Linked DNA regions of Homo sapiens. The main gene of each other region encodes a partner of the protein of the gene in region 2 in a complex. Each region holds a gene or a part of one and is shown on either strand. Other genes may lie near its edges. The genes, in order: PIGF and PIGO.

Evidence for each region.
Region 1: PIGO (region 2) and PIGF share a complex: the UniProt entries of both Homo sapiens proteins name them as parts of the ethanolamine phosphate transferase 3 complex.

What each region holds. Positions count from the first base shown.
Region 1 is NC_000002.12:46,605,923-46,614,522, forward strand, and holds part of PIGF (GPI ethanolamine phosphate transferase, stabilizing subunit), read right to left. Parts: intron 7,864-8,600; coding exon 7,772-7,863; intron 6,423-7,771; coding exon 6,306-6,422; intron 1-6,305.
Region 2 is NC_000009.12:35,093,592-35,102,255, forward strand, and holds the start of PIGO (GPI ethanolamine phosphate transferase 3, catalytic subunit), read right to left. Parts: upstream 3,001-8,664; 5' UTR 2,564-3,000; intron 2,386-2,563; exon of another isoform or gene 2,288-2,385; intron 1,976-2,287; 5' UTR 1,975-1,975; coding exon 1,464-1,974; intron 769-1,463; coding exon 625-768; intron 434-624; coding exon 310-433; intron 1-309. Other genes in the region: STOML2 (stomatin-like protein 2, mitochondrial), read right to left, coding at 6,444-6,581, 7,007-7,135, 7,341-7,420, 7,544-7,688, 7,835-7,969, 8,119-8,220, 8,313-8,371, 8,504-8,603.

The DNA.
Region 1 (8,600 bases), on a different chromosome or scaffold from region 2:
TGTGCTATGTGATATTATATAAAATGTTTCACATTATAAATTGATAATTTTTAGCCATAGTCCTCTGGAGACTAGGCTGTTCTCCAGTATGTTGGAAATTTTAGGACAACTTTTGCAGTCTACTGAAGTTTAGGTGACATCAGAGAAATCTAGCAATTTCCTGACATAAGCCTACTTTCCATAAGCAAGAAGAAAGTTAAGTACTGGCAAACTCTAACTCATTATAACTTTTATTTTGACTAGGTAGTACACTAATGTGGTTCAAATTTCAAAAGATAGCAAAGGATATTCAGTGGAAAGTCTCCTTACTTTGTCCTCTAGCTTCTCAGATCCCCTCGCAAGAGACAACAGGTTTTATCAGTTTCTCACATATCCTTCCAGAAATATACGTGTATCTGTGCCCTCTGACAACTTTTGACATAAATGGTAGCATCCTGTACACATTTTTTCACCTTGCTTTTTTCCACTAACTTATCGGTAAATAAAGAGTTTTGTTTTGGGGTTTTTTTCTGTTTTTATGTGTTTAGTTTTTACAAATGCATAGTACTTCACAGTGTGGGTTAAATTTATCCTAACCCTATCCCTTATTAAAGGATATTTAGGTAATTTTCAATGCTGAAATGAGTAATCTTATATATTCAACATTTTGTAAGTGTGCAAGTATACCTACTGGTTAAAATCCAAGAAGTAGAATTGCTGGGTCGAAGAAGTATATTTGTAATTTTTACAGATAGTACCAAACTGCACTTTACAGAGTTTGAACACTGGAGCTTGCTTCTCAAACCCTTAACACTACCATGTGACCCAGCAATCCCGCTCCAAGGCATACCCAAGATAAATAAACACATATGTCCATAAAAAAACCTATACACAAATGTTTGATGCAGCTTATTCACAACAACCAAAATGCAAAATGTGGAAAGAACCTAGATGTCCATCAACTGATAAATGGGTAAACAAAATTTGATATATATCCATACAATGGAATATTATTCAGCCACAAAAAGGAATGAAGTACTGAAGCATGCTACAACATAGATAAACCTTGAAAACATTATGCTAAGTAAAAAAAGGCAGTCACAAAAGATCACATAAGACCCAATTTATAACAAATTTCCAGGATAGGCAAATCTATAGAGACAGTAAGTAGATTGGTGGTTGCAAAAAGTCATTGAATTGTATATTTTAAATAGATGATGTGTACGGTGTGTGAATTATATCTCAATACTGTTTTAAAAAATAACCACCTCCCAGCTACCTCAGTTTACTACGTGTCATGAGCCACACATACGCACATCTGGTGTTAATTTTCCCTCAGATTTCCAACAACCATCTCATCACTTCGCAATAACTCACAATAGGCAACCCTTCTCATGTCTATTTCCAGAAGCAAACCTTTACCAAGGAAACCTTTTCCAAGGAAAAGTGCTATGTTTATTGTAATATTTGGGTGCAGGCATACCTTTTAGATACTGCAGATTTGGTTCCAGACCACCAGAATAAAGCAAATTGTACAATAAAGTGAGTCATATGTATTTTCTGGTTTCCCAGTGCATATAAAAGTTATATTTCTACTGTATCATAGTCTATTAAGTGGGCAATAGCATTAGTTTTTTAAATGCACATGATTTAAAAATACTTTATTACTAAGAAATGTTAATAATTATCTGAGCCTTCAGCAAGTTGTAATCTTTTTGCTGGTGGAAGATGTGGCCTTGATGTTGACGGCTGCTGACTGATCAGGGTGGTGGTTGGGGAGGCTGTGGAAATTTCTTTTCTTTTTTTTTTTTAAGACTGAGTCTCGCTCTATCGCCCAGGCTGGAGTGCAGTGGCACAATCTCGGCTCGCTGCAACCTCTGCCTCCTGGGTTCAAGTGATTCTTGTGCCTCAGCCTCCCAAGTAGCTGGGATTACAGGGGCCTACCAGCACGCCCAGCTAATTTTTCTTGTATTTTTAGTAGAGACAGAGTTTCACCATGTTGGCCAGGCTGGTCTCAAACTCCTGACCTCAAGTGATCTGCCTGTCTCAGCCTCCCAAAGTGCTGGGATTACAGGCACGACCCACTGCGCCCAGCCGGCAATTTCTTAAAGTGAAATTTTAACCATGAAGTTGGTTGCATCAATTGACTCTTCCTTCCAGAAAAGATTGATCTGTAGCGTGCCATGCTGTTTGACAGCCTTTTACCCAGAGTAGACCTTCTTTCAAAATTGGAGTCAACCCTCTCAAACCCTGCCATTGCTTTGCTTTATTAACTAAGTTTATGCAATATCCTAAATCCTTTGTTGTCATTTCAACAATATTCATGGCATCTTCACCAGTAGATTCCATCTCAGGAGACCATTTTCTTTCTCATCCAGAAGTAATTCCTCATCTGTTCCAGTTTTATCATAATGTTGCAGCAATTCAGTCACATCTTCAGGCTCCTGTTCTAATTCTAGTTCTCTGGCTATTTCCACCACATCTGCAGTGGTTTCCTCCACTGAAGTCCTGAACCTCTCAACATCATTCATGAGGAATGGAATCAGCTTCTCGTCAATGTTGATATTTTTATCTCCTCCCTTGAATCACAAATGTCCTCAATGGCATCCATCTAGAATGGTCCTTTCCAGAAGGTTTTCAATTTACTTTTTCCAAATCCATCAGAGGAATCACTATCTATGGCAGCTATAGCCTTACAAAATGTGTTTCTTAAGTAATAAGACTTGAAAATCAAAATTACTCCTTGATCCGTGGGCTACAGAATGGATCTTGTGTTGTAGGCATGAAAAAAACATTAATATTCTTGTACATCTCCAACAGAGCTCTTGGGTGACTAGGCACATTGTCAATGAGCAGCAATATTTTGAAAGGATTTTTTTTTTCTGAGCAGTAGGTCTCAAAAGTGAGCTTAAAATATTCAGTAAACCATGTTATAAACAGATGTGCTGTCATCCAGACTTCGTTGTTCCATTGACAGTATATAGGCAAAGTAGATTTAGCATAATTCTTAAGGGCCCTAGGATTTGCAAAATGGTAAATTAGCATTGACTTCAACTAAAGTCTCTGGCTGCACTGGCCCCTAACAAGAGAGTCAGCCTGTCAAGCATTGAAGGTGGCCACTGACTTCTCCTCTCTAACTTTAAAAGTCCTAGATGGCATCTTCTTTCAATAGAAGGCTGTTTTGTCTACATTAAAAATCTGTTATTTAGCCACCTTCACCAACAATCTTAGCTAGATCTTCTGGATAACTTGCTCCAGCTTCTACATCAGCACTTGTTGCTTCACCTTGCACTTTTATGTGATGGCGATGGCCTCTTTCCTTAAGCCTCATGAATCAACCACTGCTAGTTTCAAACTTTTCTTCTGTAACTTTCTCACCTCTCTCAGCCTTCACAGAAATGAAGAGAGTGAGAGGCTTACTCTGGATTAGGATTTGGCTTAGAATGTTGTACCTGGTTTGATCTTTCATCCAGACCATAAAACTTTCTCCCCATCAGCAGTAAGGCTGTTCCACTTTCTTGTCACTCATGTGTTTACTAGAGTAGACTAAATTTCCTTTAAGAACTTTTCCTTTGCATTCACAACTTGGCTATTTGGCACAAGGGGCTTCACTTTTAGTCTGTCTCAGTTCTTGACAACTTAACTTTTTCATTAAGCTTAATCACTTCTAGCTTTTGATTTAAAGTGAGAGACAAGTAAAATTTTCCTTTCACTTGAACACTTAAGAGACCATAGTATGGTTATTAACTGGCCTAAATTTGATATTTTTGTATCTCAGGGAACAGGGACGGGAGAGAGAGGGAGGGTGGGGAAGGGAGAGAGACAGAGAGAACACGTTGGTAGGTGAAGCAGTCAGAAGATGTACAACATTTATTAAGATCGTCATCTTATATGGGTATGAGCCATGGTGCCCCAAAACAATTACAAAAAGTAACAGCAAAGACCACAGATCACCATAATAGATATAATAATAATGAAAAAGCTTGAAATATTGTGAGAGTTTCCAATGAAGAGAACACATGCTGTTGGAAAAACGGCGCTGATACATTTGCTTGATGCAGGGTTGCCACAAACCTTCAATTTATAAAAAACAGTATCTGATCTGAGCAATATCTGAGAAGTACAATAAAGTGAGGAACAATAAAATGAGGTATGCCTGTATTTTGTAACCATTTTAAACGTGTAAAACTGTGCTACCATTTTTATTAAGTTCCCATCTTCTCTCTACATGTCACTGATGAATTGTTTTAGTGTTATGACCTAACCCCATCTTTCCCATAAGCTCTGTGGTTTTTACTGCCCATTTTGTACAGCGTAGTGATTTTTAGGAACACACAGGCCACATTATAGCAGAACTAATTGTAAAATCACATGACAGTATTTCCCCCAAATACACCCATTATTAGACATAGACTTGAAAACTGGAGAAATCACTAATCCAAAGTAATAAGATTTCAATCCAATTTCACTATTTAAAAATTTCAAACTAAAAGGCTAAAAGCAATTAATACCATTTGGGATATTATGGTAATAATGTAGAAAATGCTTTCAGTTGTTACACTTCTGTTTTCTAGAGACTTTATGAATATTAGAAGACGGTTCCAAGGGAAAACAGTACTGATTCCTTTTTTTTTTTTTTTTTTTTTGAGACAGATTCTCACTATGTTGCCCAGGCTGGAGTCCAGTGGTGCGATCTCGGCTCACTGCAACCTCCGCCTCCTGGGTTCAAGCAATTCTCCTGCCTCAGCTTCCCAAGTAGCTGGGACTACAGGCACCCGCCACCACACCCAGCTAATTTTTGTATTTTTAGTAGAGATGGGGTTTCACCATGTTGGCCAGGCTGGTCTTGAACTCCTGACCTCAGGTGATCCACCCGCCTTGGCCTCCCAAAGTGCTGAGATTACAGGCGTGAGCCACCACACTCGTCCCAAACAGTACTGATTTCAAAGGGAATAAGTCGGTAATTTATGAAGCCAAGCTACTCAGCATGCATCTTTTGCTCTCATTGGGCTGTTACCTTTCAAATCACACAAAAATACCCTGTTCATTTCAGTTTCAATGCTTTTATCCATTCTCCTTGCACGAGGTGCCTTTCTCTTCCTTCTTGGTCTCACCAAATCATATACTCTTGACTTAAGTCCATCATAGATCATTCCCATCTCCCCCTCCATTCTTTACTGATGCTCTGTCCCTTTGAGTTCCTACACCACTTATTGCTGGATTTACACATTTGTAATCTGATGTTATTTGCTCATTTTTGTCCCTTGAACAGATAAGCTCCTCAGCAAAAGAATCCTCCTAATAAGGCCGGGTGTGGTGGCTCATACCTGTAATCCCAGCACTTTGGGAGGCGAGGCGGGCGGATCATGAGGTCGAGATCAAGACCATCCTGGCCAGTGTGGTGAAACCCTGTCTCTACTAAAAATAGAAAAATTAGCTGGGCATGGTGGCATGCACCTGTAGTCCCAGCTACTTGGGAGGCTGAGGCAGGAGAATCACTTGAACCTGGGAGATGGAGGTTGCAGTGAGCCGAAATCATGCCACTGCACTCCAGCCTGGCGACAGAGCGAGGTTCCATCTCAAAAAAAAAAAAAAAGATTCCTCCTAATACTTCAGAAACCACACACAGCTTAGCATAACACAATAACACAGAGCACAGACTAAGTGCTCAAGAAGTTCTTGCTGCTGGGTGATAAATAGGAAAGAATCAAATAACCTTCTGGCTTTCTTAGCTAGATCTCCACTATTTCTGGTGCATATCATTTAAATGACTTTCAAGAAGCTAAAATTTTAACTTAGCCATGCTGAAAATATATACGGCCACCAAGGAAATGAAATCTCATAAAACTTGAGCTCTGGTATCTTATCACAAAAAAGGCTAAACAAGAAATTATCATTGTTACACAACACATTTTTAGATTGTGGACCCCACTTCTACCTTATAAAATGTATGTAAGCAATTTTATTTACAGCAGTCTTATCACAGTGCCAAATTATCCCAGAACCATGGTTTTCAAGGCTTTCTTTTAATAGTAGAATTTTTTTTTATTTCTTCTTCTTCTTTTTTTTTTTAAACAAACAAAAGGCTAGGTGGAATTCTACCATACAGAAAAAAGGAGAGCTGATCTTGCTAACGTGGAGGGAGGGGCTTGTAGTTCTGCCTGCCCTGTCCCCAGTCCCTAATTGCAGTGACCCCTTAAGGCATCTCTGAGCACCATCAGCAATGAGAAGCACTCAGAATAATCAGCAAACTGCCATGAATAGAAAAATACTTCATTAATTATTTTTTAATTTCAATATCATTATAATATAAAATTAAAACTTACCCATTTCTACTGAACACTCTTAGCCATGCTTTGAGGTTTGGTCCTAACAAACATAAGCAAGGCACAGTAGTAAAAGTAGACAAAATAACTGCAAATAAAAATGTTTCCAATGCCAACCTAGAAAAAAAAAAAGATTACTTTTTAAAAAAGTGTTAAAGGTAAACATACACATACATAATCTTTATTATATAAATAAAATGTGAAATATCTTCCTATGCTTTACTTTGAAAGGTAACATGAATGCCACCAAAATGATGACTATAAATAATTTTACCACCAACATGTAGCTTTAAAAAACAATCTAGCAAGTATTTCGCTTTAATGATAGATTTCAGAAGTGTTAAAGACCCTAGGATCCATGCTGAGACTTTCACTGCAAACACAAACAAACAAACAAAATCCATTTCTAGATAGTTAGCTTTCTGCTCAATAGTCTCTCTGGAACTTTCTCTACAACTAGTGGTTCAATACACTATTGAACCACTATTGAACCACTATTGAATACTAGTTGTAGTGGTTCTCTACAACTAGTGGTTAACATATATTGGAAACACCTGGAGAGCTGGATAAACTAAAGATTGGTGGGGGCTCTACCCCTAGAGTTTCTGACTGAAGCTTGAGTATTTGCATTTTGATAAAATGCTGATGCTGCTGGTTTGAAAACCACATTTTGAGAACCACTGTGCCAGACACATTCATTCTGCTTTAAAATGGATTAGACAGGAACCACCATTTTCCATTACAAAGGTCTTGTTCTCTCCCATCTAGAAAAGAATAACCTGTCAGTTTAGTGTGTGTACGTAAAACTATGTATAAATATATATATATATATAAAATGGTATACTTAGCAACACAAATATATGTGTGTGTATATGTATATGTATCTCATCACTCATTTCACCATGATCATTAATCACTGCTAAACTGAAGCTTCTCAAACTATGATAAACATTATGTAAGAAACATTCATGAATTTTGTTTCTAAGAATTTGAAATTTGTCAGTTCAGAAAAAGTGTTAAATTTTACCTTTAAACTATAAACACCAGCTTATTCAGTATTTGAATACAGGAATCTATTGACTTTTGTTAAGAAAAACTCCATTCAAGTACTTTAGAATCACATTTATAAGAACTGATATGCTAATTATAACTTACACATATAATCATAGTAAGTTCTTTCAGAGGTTCTAAGGGCCAAATACTTATTGGTATAGTATAGTTTCTCTACTCTCCCTTCTCTCAACATGCAATTGGATACTAGAAGGCTAGGTAACAAGAGTATTTAATAAATTAAGTTATTCTGCTGTTTTTTTTAAAAAAGAATAACACTGCTAATGATGTTGGTGTCCTTACTTGATCTATTAATGATGCACATCATGGTTTTTCTCTAGTTGCTAAGAATTAGCACACAGTTTGGTAAATGAATGTTTTAAAATATAAATTTAGGGTAAAAATTTCAAACTTACTCTATCAGTGGTGCTCCATACAGAACAAAAATTACATGAAAGGAGAAACAAGACATAAGAAAGTAGATACAGCATTTCAAAAATCCAGTTACCTAAAAGAGAAATGAATAACCTGAAGATTCAAGATAATGCTTAAAGGACAATAAATTCTTCCATTTCATCTACAAACACAACTTGTTCCCATAATGTGTAAAACAGTTCAAATGTTCTTGGGTATACTCAAATCAGATCACATGTCCTGTACCGTCACATACACAGCCTTCGATACAGACTAAAAAAGCCTAAAAGGCAAATACCACCTTCCGCCCATATTCTACCCATCCGACCTACATGAGTCGAAAAGAGGTTCTGTTTCCATGGTAATATAGAGCTATGTCATTAATCAATATTTATCAAATACTGATTGACATCAGAGAGCTAGGATACAAAAAATACAGTATTATGCGATGATAGAGGAAATATCTGCAGAAAATAACAATTTTTTTCATTTTAAAACAAAATTCCTGGGAAAACTGCACTGAAAAAGCAAAATACTAAATAATTCTTGAAATCACACTCATATTACACAACCCGTATGAAAAAAGACCTGAACATCTACAAAGAAACATGAGATCTTCTTGATTTGGAGCTTAAGAATATATAAACATAACACATACATTCAGCTTTTCCAATCATAGGCAGTAAATGACCTAACAGAGCTTATACATGGTAGAAAATAATGTTAAGTGTGGACATTATTAGTAATAGCCAAGTGAATATCTACTGCAGTGAATATTCTGGAAAATTGATTCTAATATCTGAAAATTGTTTAGTCAAGGAAGGCCATGTT
Region 2 (8,664 bases):
TAAATGTGTCAGGAGTAGAAACGGATAAATATTTTTCTCAAAAAGAAAAAAGATTTTTCTCCAGGGGCCTATTCATCCCCAGCTATAACTCCATTAGTAAGGCCTAGACCTTTGGCAAAGAGACATGTCTTCGGCCATGATCCTGATGCCCAAAGCTACACATTGAGTTAATCAAGATGGATGGAGCCTCTAGCTTCAGCAGAAGGCCTAGAGAAGACAGAATTCAGCCAGGAAAGAAGCTCTAAGATAAGAGCTTCTTCGAGATTCTCAGACACAAACCCACTCCCCCAGCCAATACCCCACACTCACTGGATCACCTGGTCCATCTGGCTAAGTTTCTTGGCCATTTCAGGGTGGTGAGGGCCATGCTTGTGGCCACAGTGGTCCACACCCAGGAAGTGAGCAATCAGCACGTCCCATTCACCACTGTCCACTGTGAAGGGGAGAACACTGAGCACAGAAGACTAAGACCCACTCCTCAACCCCAGCCAGGCTTTGACACTCCTCTATGTCCAGGGATACAAGCCCAGGCTGTTACACCCATAGGTGGCTCAGAATTTGTGGACTAAAGCAGTTCTCCCCAGCTCCCAGTCTTAGAACTAAGTGCTCTGGCCCCATGCTCACTGGTGGGGTAGAGGTGTTCCAGGATGCCATTGTCCACTGTGTCTAGGTCTCTGACATTGAAGGATGGGAAGAAGAAAGCTTTGGAGAAAGCACCAGGGAAAAGGTCTTTCCAGGTATCATCTCCCATGAAGACTACACGCCTTCCTGCAGGGACATGAAAGAGAAGTCAGAGCCTGAGCAAACGTCAGGGTTAGGAGAAAAGAGGAAAAGAGGCCCTTTAAAGACCCATCAGAAGTCCCAACCATGCAACCTAAAGTACAGCAATTCCATACAGCAATCCTTATCCTTCAGGGCCTAACATTTTCCACCAGGAAGCTTTCCCTGATAACCGTACTCCACCCAGACCTCACACTTATCCTTCCTACAAAATGCTCTCCTAGTTCTGTCTCTGGGTATCTCTACTGAGTTGTTTTTCCTGGGTGTATCCTGCTTCTTCCCAGTCAGTGAATGAACAGGGCCTGTATTTCTCTGCTTTCTTCTCCACACTTGCAAGCCAAGATCCACATCTTCTCTTCTTCCCTTCTCCCTTTTACTGAGAGGTCTCCAAGAATAAAACTTACACTCCATTCAGATTAGAAGCTTCATAGGAACAAAGCCCAGATCCCTTCTCCTCTGTCTCCCAAACTGAGCTCCCTACCAGCAGGGCCCTGGCCTCTTTCTTCTCCTCTGTCCCCCAAACTGAGCTCCCTACCAGCAGGGCCCTGGCCTCTTTCTTCTCCTCTGTCCCCCTACACCATAATCAAGTGTGCATCTGGGCACCCAAAGGTCTGACTCCCTGACTTCAAATTTTGAAGAAATTTGCCAAGGTACTTCTGGCCTTCAAAGTGGCCCACACTGACCTGCACTGGTGAGCTGCTTAATGAGATTGTCTTCCACTATGGCGTGGCTGGCGAAGTTACTACCAGCATCAATAAAGGTAGGCAGTGAGCCAGTGGTGAGGGCCTTGAGGCGCTGCATGGTGGTGGTAGGAGGGTCAACCTGAGATCGGTAGAGCCGGGCATGGTGGGGCTGAATCTCCAGGATCCTCTGCAAGGAGCTTAGTTTGCCCAGGAAGGGTAGGGAGACAGGAGGCTCTCTAGGCACGTGTGAATGCTGGGGCTGGGCGAAGTCAAATCGCAGAGCATCTATCAGCACCAACACAACCCGCGAAAATCGGGAAGCCATCCAGCAGGCCCCAGGTTTCCCTTGGCTCCCCCATGGCAGGGACCCAGGGCCTGGGGGCTCTTGGCAGCTGCTATGGTTGGTGAGCTCCAAACGGGTGAGCAGGAAGCCACTGGTGAAGAGGGCAATGCCAGCGTAGAAGAGGAAGCAGACCCAGGCCAGGAAGAGCAACACTGAGGCTTTCTGCATCCTGATAGGGGTGGGGAAGTAAATTCATTACTGTGGGGCAAAGAACCAGTGGATATTCTGGTCCCTGAATACAAGCCCAGCTAGAATCACTTCCTCCCGGAAACCTTCCTGGAGATAAACCATTTCACAGCCAACCCCTCGCAATATTACTCTCCTCCTATTTCCAGGCTGGGCATGGTGGCTCACGCCTGTAATCCCAGCACTTTGGGAGGCCGAGGCGGGCGGATCACCTGAGGTGAGGAGTTCGAGACCAGCCTGGCCAAAATGGCGAAACCCCGTCCCTACTAAAAATACAAAAATGGGTGGCGGGCACCTGTAGTCTCAGCTACTGGGGAGGCTGACGCAGGAGAATCGCTTGAATCGGGGAGGCGGAGGTTGCAGTGAGCCGAGATTGAACCACTGCACTAGAGTCTGGACAACAGAGGGAGACGCCGTTTCATGAGGTCCCACCCCAGATCTACTGAATCAGGATCTTCGAGGGGTAGAGCATAGGAACGTTCACATGTACAGGCAGGAAATGCTAATGCTGCCTGTACATGTGAACAGTCAGGAGGGAAACTTATTCCAATTGGTAGTCAGGCTCTCTTACACGCCGTTTCTGCGCCTCTCCCCTCGCCAATCTCAATACCCAGTGGAAAGGGATCGAAGCCGCAGGGGAATCCGGGCCCAGCCGACGGCGCCGCCTGGCGGGCACCGAGGGGACGAAGGGGAGGAGTCACTCTCCGCTTCCGGGCGGCCAGGTTCGCCAGGAGACCTGAGGCACGACCTTCGCCACGCAAGGAGGCTGGGGCCCGGGTCGAGAGTCGACTGGGCCTCCGCTGGGACCCAGGCGTGCGACCGGCTCTGCCTCCTCCGGTAACTACCCAGCCTCCCGCTGGGCACCCTAGCCGCGGTACTGAGCACCTTGGTTAGGAGCTGAGGGGAAGAGGGAGACTCCCTTACTTCAGGGTGAGGGGAATACCGGGGGGTGAGGTTCTCGGGAGACCCTGGCTCACCTGCAATGGCACCCGGAAGTGCGGCGGCGGCGGCGCCTGCGACCTGGCAGCACAGAGATGCGTGCGCCAGACAGAGTGGCCCGTCGGTGGCTCCATCGCCATCTGCCGGCACCTCGGTGGAAGTTTGGCCAGGAGCGTGGGGCTGGCCCCAGTTTGATGGGATATTTAGTAATTGAAAATTGGGGACAGGGGACCAAGCTGGAGGAAGAGTTCAGGGAACCACTGTCCATTCATGGTTACGACTAAGAGCACGGCTGCTGGAGTCAAACTTGACTTGAATCCTAGCTTGGCCGCACATATTGTCATCATTAGGCATTACCTCATCTGTAAAATGGAGATAATACTTATTTTCCCTTTTTTGCTTAGCTGAGTCCAACTGAGATTTCATTACTCCTCCTTTCAAAGCCTGTAACTAAATCTTACGACTGAATAATTAAGCAAATAATCCTTCGGAGTGGAGGAGGGGAGGCTGGGCCCAGTGGTTCACACCTGTAATCCCAGCACTTTGGGAGGTCAAGGCAGGTGGATCACCTAAGGTCAGGAGTTCAAGACCAGCCCGGCCAATATGACGAAACGCCGTCTCTACTGAAAATACAAAAGTTACCCGGGAGTGGTGGCGGGCGCCTGTGATCCCAGATACCTGGGAGGCTGAGGCAGGAGAATCACTCGAACCCAGGAGGCAGAGGTTGCAGTGAGCCGAGATTGCACCACTGCACTCCAGCCTGGGCAACAGAGCAAGACTCCCTCTCAAAAAAAAAAAAAAAAATGCCAGGCACGATGACTCACACCTGTAAGCCCAGCACTTTGGGAGGCTGAGGCTGGAGAATCAGTTGAAGTCAGGAATTGGAGACCAGCCTGGCCAACATGCTGAAACCCCAACTCTACTAAAAATTACAAAATTTAGCCAGGCGTGGCGATGTGTACCTGTAGTCCCAGCTACTGAGGAGGCTGAGACTGGACAATTGCTTGAAGCCAGGAGGCAGAGGCTACAGTGAGCTGAGATCGTGCTACTGCACTCCAGCCTAGGCAACAGAGCAAGACTCTGTCTCAAAAAGAAACAAAACCCGTCCACTGGTTTCTCATCTCAGAGTAAAAGTTCTTGCATTGGCTCTACATGGCCCTGCACACTATCTGCCTCTTCCCCTTCTGATTCATCTAGCTGCCACTTCTTTGCTTCCCTAACTCTGTTCCATCCACAGCAGTTCTGCCTCAGGACCTTTGCATTTGCCATCTCCTCTGTCAGCTTCAGTTCCCGATGCCGAAATGGATCTCCATCACCTTCATATTGAAGCTCAACTGTAACATCAGCAAGGCTTCCTGCAATCCCCTACTTTACTAGTTCAGCACCTCCCACCACCACACCCCCTGGAAAAATTTCCCCTCACTTCCTTAATTTCTTCCATAGCACAACTCATCAGCATCTGAAATTCTACACGTATTTATGGTTTATCCCCTCCGAGTAGAATGTGAGCTCATTGAGGTCAGGGAATTCTGTTTTCTTCATGATATCCTCAGCACCTAGCATATATTTGAGGTTCACATACTGACCAAACGAATAAAGGAATATGTTAATTTTTAAAAAAAGTTGAGTTATTCTTCCACCTTCATCCCCATAGCCCCTTATCTCAGTTCAGACCTCATCCCTTCTCCAGGATCACTGAGGCAGCCTTCTCACTGTCCTCCCAGCCTCCTGTGTCTCCCTACTATCCCTTCTCCACATTGCAGCAAGACAGCTCTAACTAAAACATTAATGTGATTACTGTTATTTTTTTCTTTTTTGTAGAGATAGGGTCTTACCATGTTGCCCAGGCTGGTCAACTCCTGGGCTCAAGTGATCCTCCCACCTCAGCCTCCCAAAGTGCTGGGATCACAGGTATGAGTCACTGTGCCTGGCCAATGTGATGTTTTATCTTAAAATTCTTCATGGGAAGGGAAAAAAACCCTTCATAGGCCGGGCACAGTGGCTCACGCCTGTAATCCCAGCACTTTGGGAGGCTCAGGCGGGCAGATCACGAGGTCTGGAGTTCGAGATCAGCCTGACCAACATGGTGAAACCCTGTCTCTACAAAAAACAAAAAAATTAGCCAGGTATGGTGGCGCATGCCTGTAATCCCAGCTACTAAGGAGGCTGAGGCAGGAGAATTGCTTGAACCCGGGAGGCGGAGGTTGCAGTGAGCCGAGATCATGCCATTGCACTCCAGCCTGGACAACAGAGGGAGACGCTGTCTCAAACAAACAAACAAAAAAACCCTATTACCCTAGGGATAATGTCCAACCCCTTCAACAAGAATCTCATTCCTTGTGACTTGGCCCTTGCCATGTAGTCACATCCCCCTTAACACTATACCCTTCAGCCAACTTCTCTCAAGCAGTGAGCCTTTGTTTATTCTAGTCCAGGACCTGACTTGGTGAAAACTTGCTAACTTTTCCAGCCTGAGTTCAGTGGCAATCAGCAACGCTGCTACTCATAAGCTGATATGCTCTTCCCACCAAGATCCCTCAGCCAGAACTTTCCTCTACCACAGCATTTATCACTTTTTTTTTTTTTTTTAACAGAGTGTCTCACTGTTGCCAGGCTGGAGTGCAATGGCGTGATCACGGCTCACTGCAGCCTCCACCTCCCAGGTTCATGCAATTCTCCTGCCTCAGCCTCCCAAGCAACTGGGACTACCCGCACATGCTACCACGCCCAGCTAGTTTTTGTATTTTTAGTAGACGGGGTTTCACCATATTGGCCAGGATGGTCTCAATCTCCTGACCTCATGATCTGCACACCTCAGCCTCCCAAAGTGCTGGGATTACGGGTGTTGAGCCACCACGCCCGGCCACATTTATCACTTTCTATCACTGTCTGCTTCCTGTCTGTTTTCCCTACCTGACCTTGTATTCTGTGAAAGCAGGGACCACTGGGTTTCAGGTATTTTTGTAATCCAGTGTCTAGTAATGAGCTTGGCACTTGGTAGACATTCAATGTTTTTGAATAAATGAATGAGGAGCACCCTCAGTCCCTGAAAACCCTTTAAGTATGCCAGTGCAGGGTAGTAGTTTCTCATGAAAGTACTTCTTTCCCACGAAAAAACCCCCAAACACCTGCCTCAAACACACAGCCCCACACTTAGCAGGAAGGGGACTTCACTTCCCAGCCAGCAGTTCAGTGAACATATGGTTTAACACTTCCACCCTATCCCACAGTTTCTCTTGAAGACAAAAATGATAGTTTCACTTTACAAGAAGTTCACTCTTATTCATGGAGGCATCATGCTGACAGGACTGGATCCAAGGAAAATGCTAGTGACTTTCCCAACTTCATTCCCCAATCAAAGAGGACAGTTTCTGGTTTGCCACTGGTGAGTTTATTACACGACTAAAGTTCAAATAAAAAAATAAAAACCAAAATCTTGGCAGGGAAGCTAGAGCCAGAATCAGGAAAATCTGCTTCCTTGTTCCCAGACTCCCTGGCCAAGCCCAGCTCCACTAACTCATCTTGACTCGATCAAGTTCCTCATCAAGACTTGCATCTGTACCCTGGACATCTCTGCTGCTCCCACTGGAGAGTGAGTCTGGAGTCCCTGGCACTGGGGCTTTGGTGAGGGCTCCATATACACCCATGGCCTGAGGAGAGGAACAGAGAGAATACCATGAGGACACTTGACAGAGGTGCAGCCCAGCCTACCAATGGCTAAACGGGAAAAGATGGCATGGGGGCCAGTAAGTTGGTTTTCCTTTCTCCCTCTCTCAAACCTGTCTTGTAAGCTCTGGAGTTGATTTTAGGAATCTTGCAAACCATCAGAGTAAAGTGACTCTCAGAATACCAGCACAAGTATCTACCAAAAAAAGGTATCTCAAGAACTTCCATATTTGCAGGACTGAGTGGAGATGTTTCATTCTTAGATTCCATCTCTACAAAGAATGAAGGGAGGTCTAGGGCCAAGGCACTCTGAAGACCTTTATGGTATGTAAGTGTTGATGACGGTGGTGGGGTCTCAGTTTGGTCCCTGGCACCAGTGCTCTATGCTGGGTCCTCAGAGAGCTCTAACCTGAGCCACCATGCTGGTGACATCGCCAGGGTTGGAGGGCAGTAGGATAGTGTTGGAGTCCTTGGCCAGTTTGGAGAACGCGCTGACATACTGCTCGGCCACAGTCAGTGAAGCTGCTGCATCTCCATTCTGTGATCACAGGGGGATAAAAATCAGAGATCACCGATACGGAGAAGAAGGGGGGGATGGGGAATGAAGAAAGCAGTTCACAATAAAAAGGACCATGTAATCTGGCTCAACAGAGCCCACAGAGGCGGAACTCTCCTCAAGCGTAGATAAGAGAACCCCTTCCACTGTCAATTCCTGTCCCCATTCCCACCCAGGGGCCTCTCACATGTTGTGTCAGAGCTGCAGCCAGGATTCGAATAGCTTCAGCTTTAGCCTTGGCCTTCGCCAGAACTGCACTGGCCTCTCCTGCAAGAGAAGGGACAGAGCTTGCTTGACCCATGAAGTCAAAGTACCCCAAAGATCCTGCCCCAGCACCAATCTTCAAAGGCCCATGCCTTGCTCCTCCCTCAGCCTCTACCCTCTCCTGACCTGCTGCCTGATTTATCTGTTCAGCCTTTTCTGCTTCGGAGGCCAGGATCTGGGCCTGTTTCTTCCCTTCTGCCACATTGATGGCCGACTCTCGGGTCCCCTCAGACTCTAGAACTGTGGCCCGTTTCCGCCGCTCTGCCTCCACCTGGAAGCCCACAACAATCCCAATCAACAAGCCAAGGGAGACTGATACAGACATGCAACTCTACCCATCATAACAGGAGGGAAGTCTGGATCCTCCTGGTACTGGAGCACCCTGAGGCCCTTTTCCCACCCCTCCTTGGCCCCCACCTGCATCTGCATAGACTCTTTCACCCGGGGTGGCACATGGATATCCTTGATCTCATAACGGAGGCAGCGGATACCCCAGCAGTCAGCAGCTTGGTTGATGGCATCCACAATGCTGGCATTCAGGGACTCCCGTTCCTGGAAAAAGAGGTGTAAGCCCCACAGCCTCAACCTACCTATCAAGGGCCTACACTGAGAAGGGCCTGGGACTGATCTTGACCTTCAGAAAAGATTAAGAGTGTCAGGTTTGTGTCTTCAAACCCTAACTCTGGCTCAGATCTGCTTACCCGGAAGACTTTGTCCAGAGAGAGTTTGCCGAGCTCTGATCTCATGGTTGTTTGAGCTAGCTGGGTGACGGCATACTCAGGGTCCTCCACACCGTAGCTTGCCTGAGATGGACACGGATAGTGTAAGAAGCTTGGGCACAAGATTTTAGTGAAGAGGGCAACTCAAAAGGCTGGATAAAGTAGGGGACAGGTACCTTGTAAGGGTCCATGATGCGCAGGTAAAGGACTCCATCGATTTGCAGAGTTACATTGTCTGTAGAACCAGGAGAGAAAACGGGGAAAGTCAGGCCTCTAGGTCCCAACCAGTTCTTTCTACTAAGCTCTGGATCTACAGCAACCACATCCTAATAGCCTCAGAGCACCCATGTCACCCTGAACCCCTCACCGAGAGTCACAGCCGACTGCTCAGGCACGTTGATGACAATTTCCTTGAGACTCTGCACATATCGGATCCGGTCTAACACAGGGATGAGGATGTTCAAACCCTGGAAAGAGGAGTCATGGGTCCTCAGAAGGCTGGGAACTATTGGGTTGGGACCTAAGCTA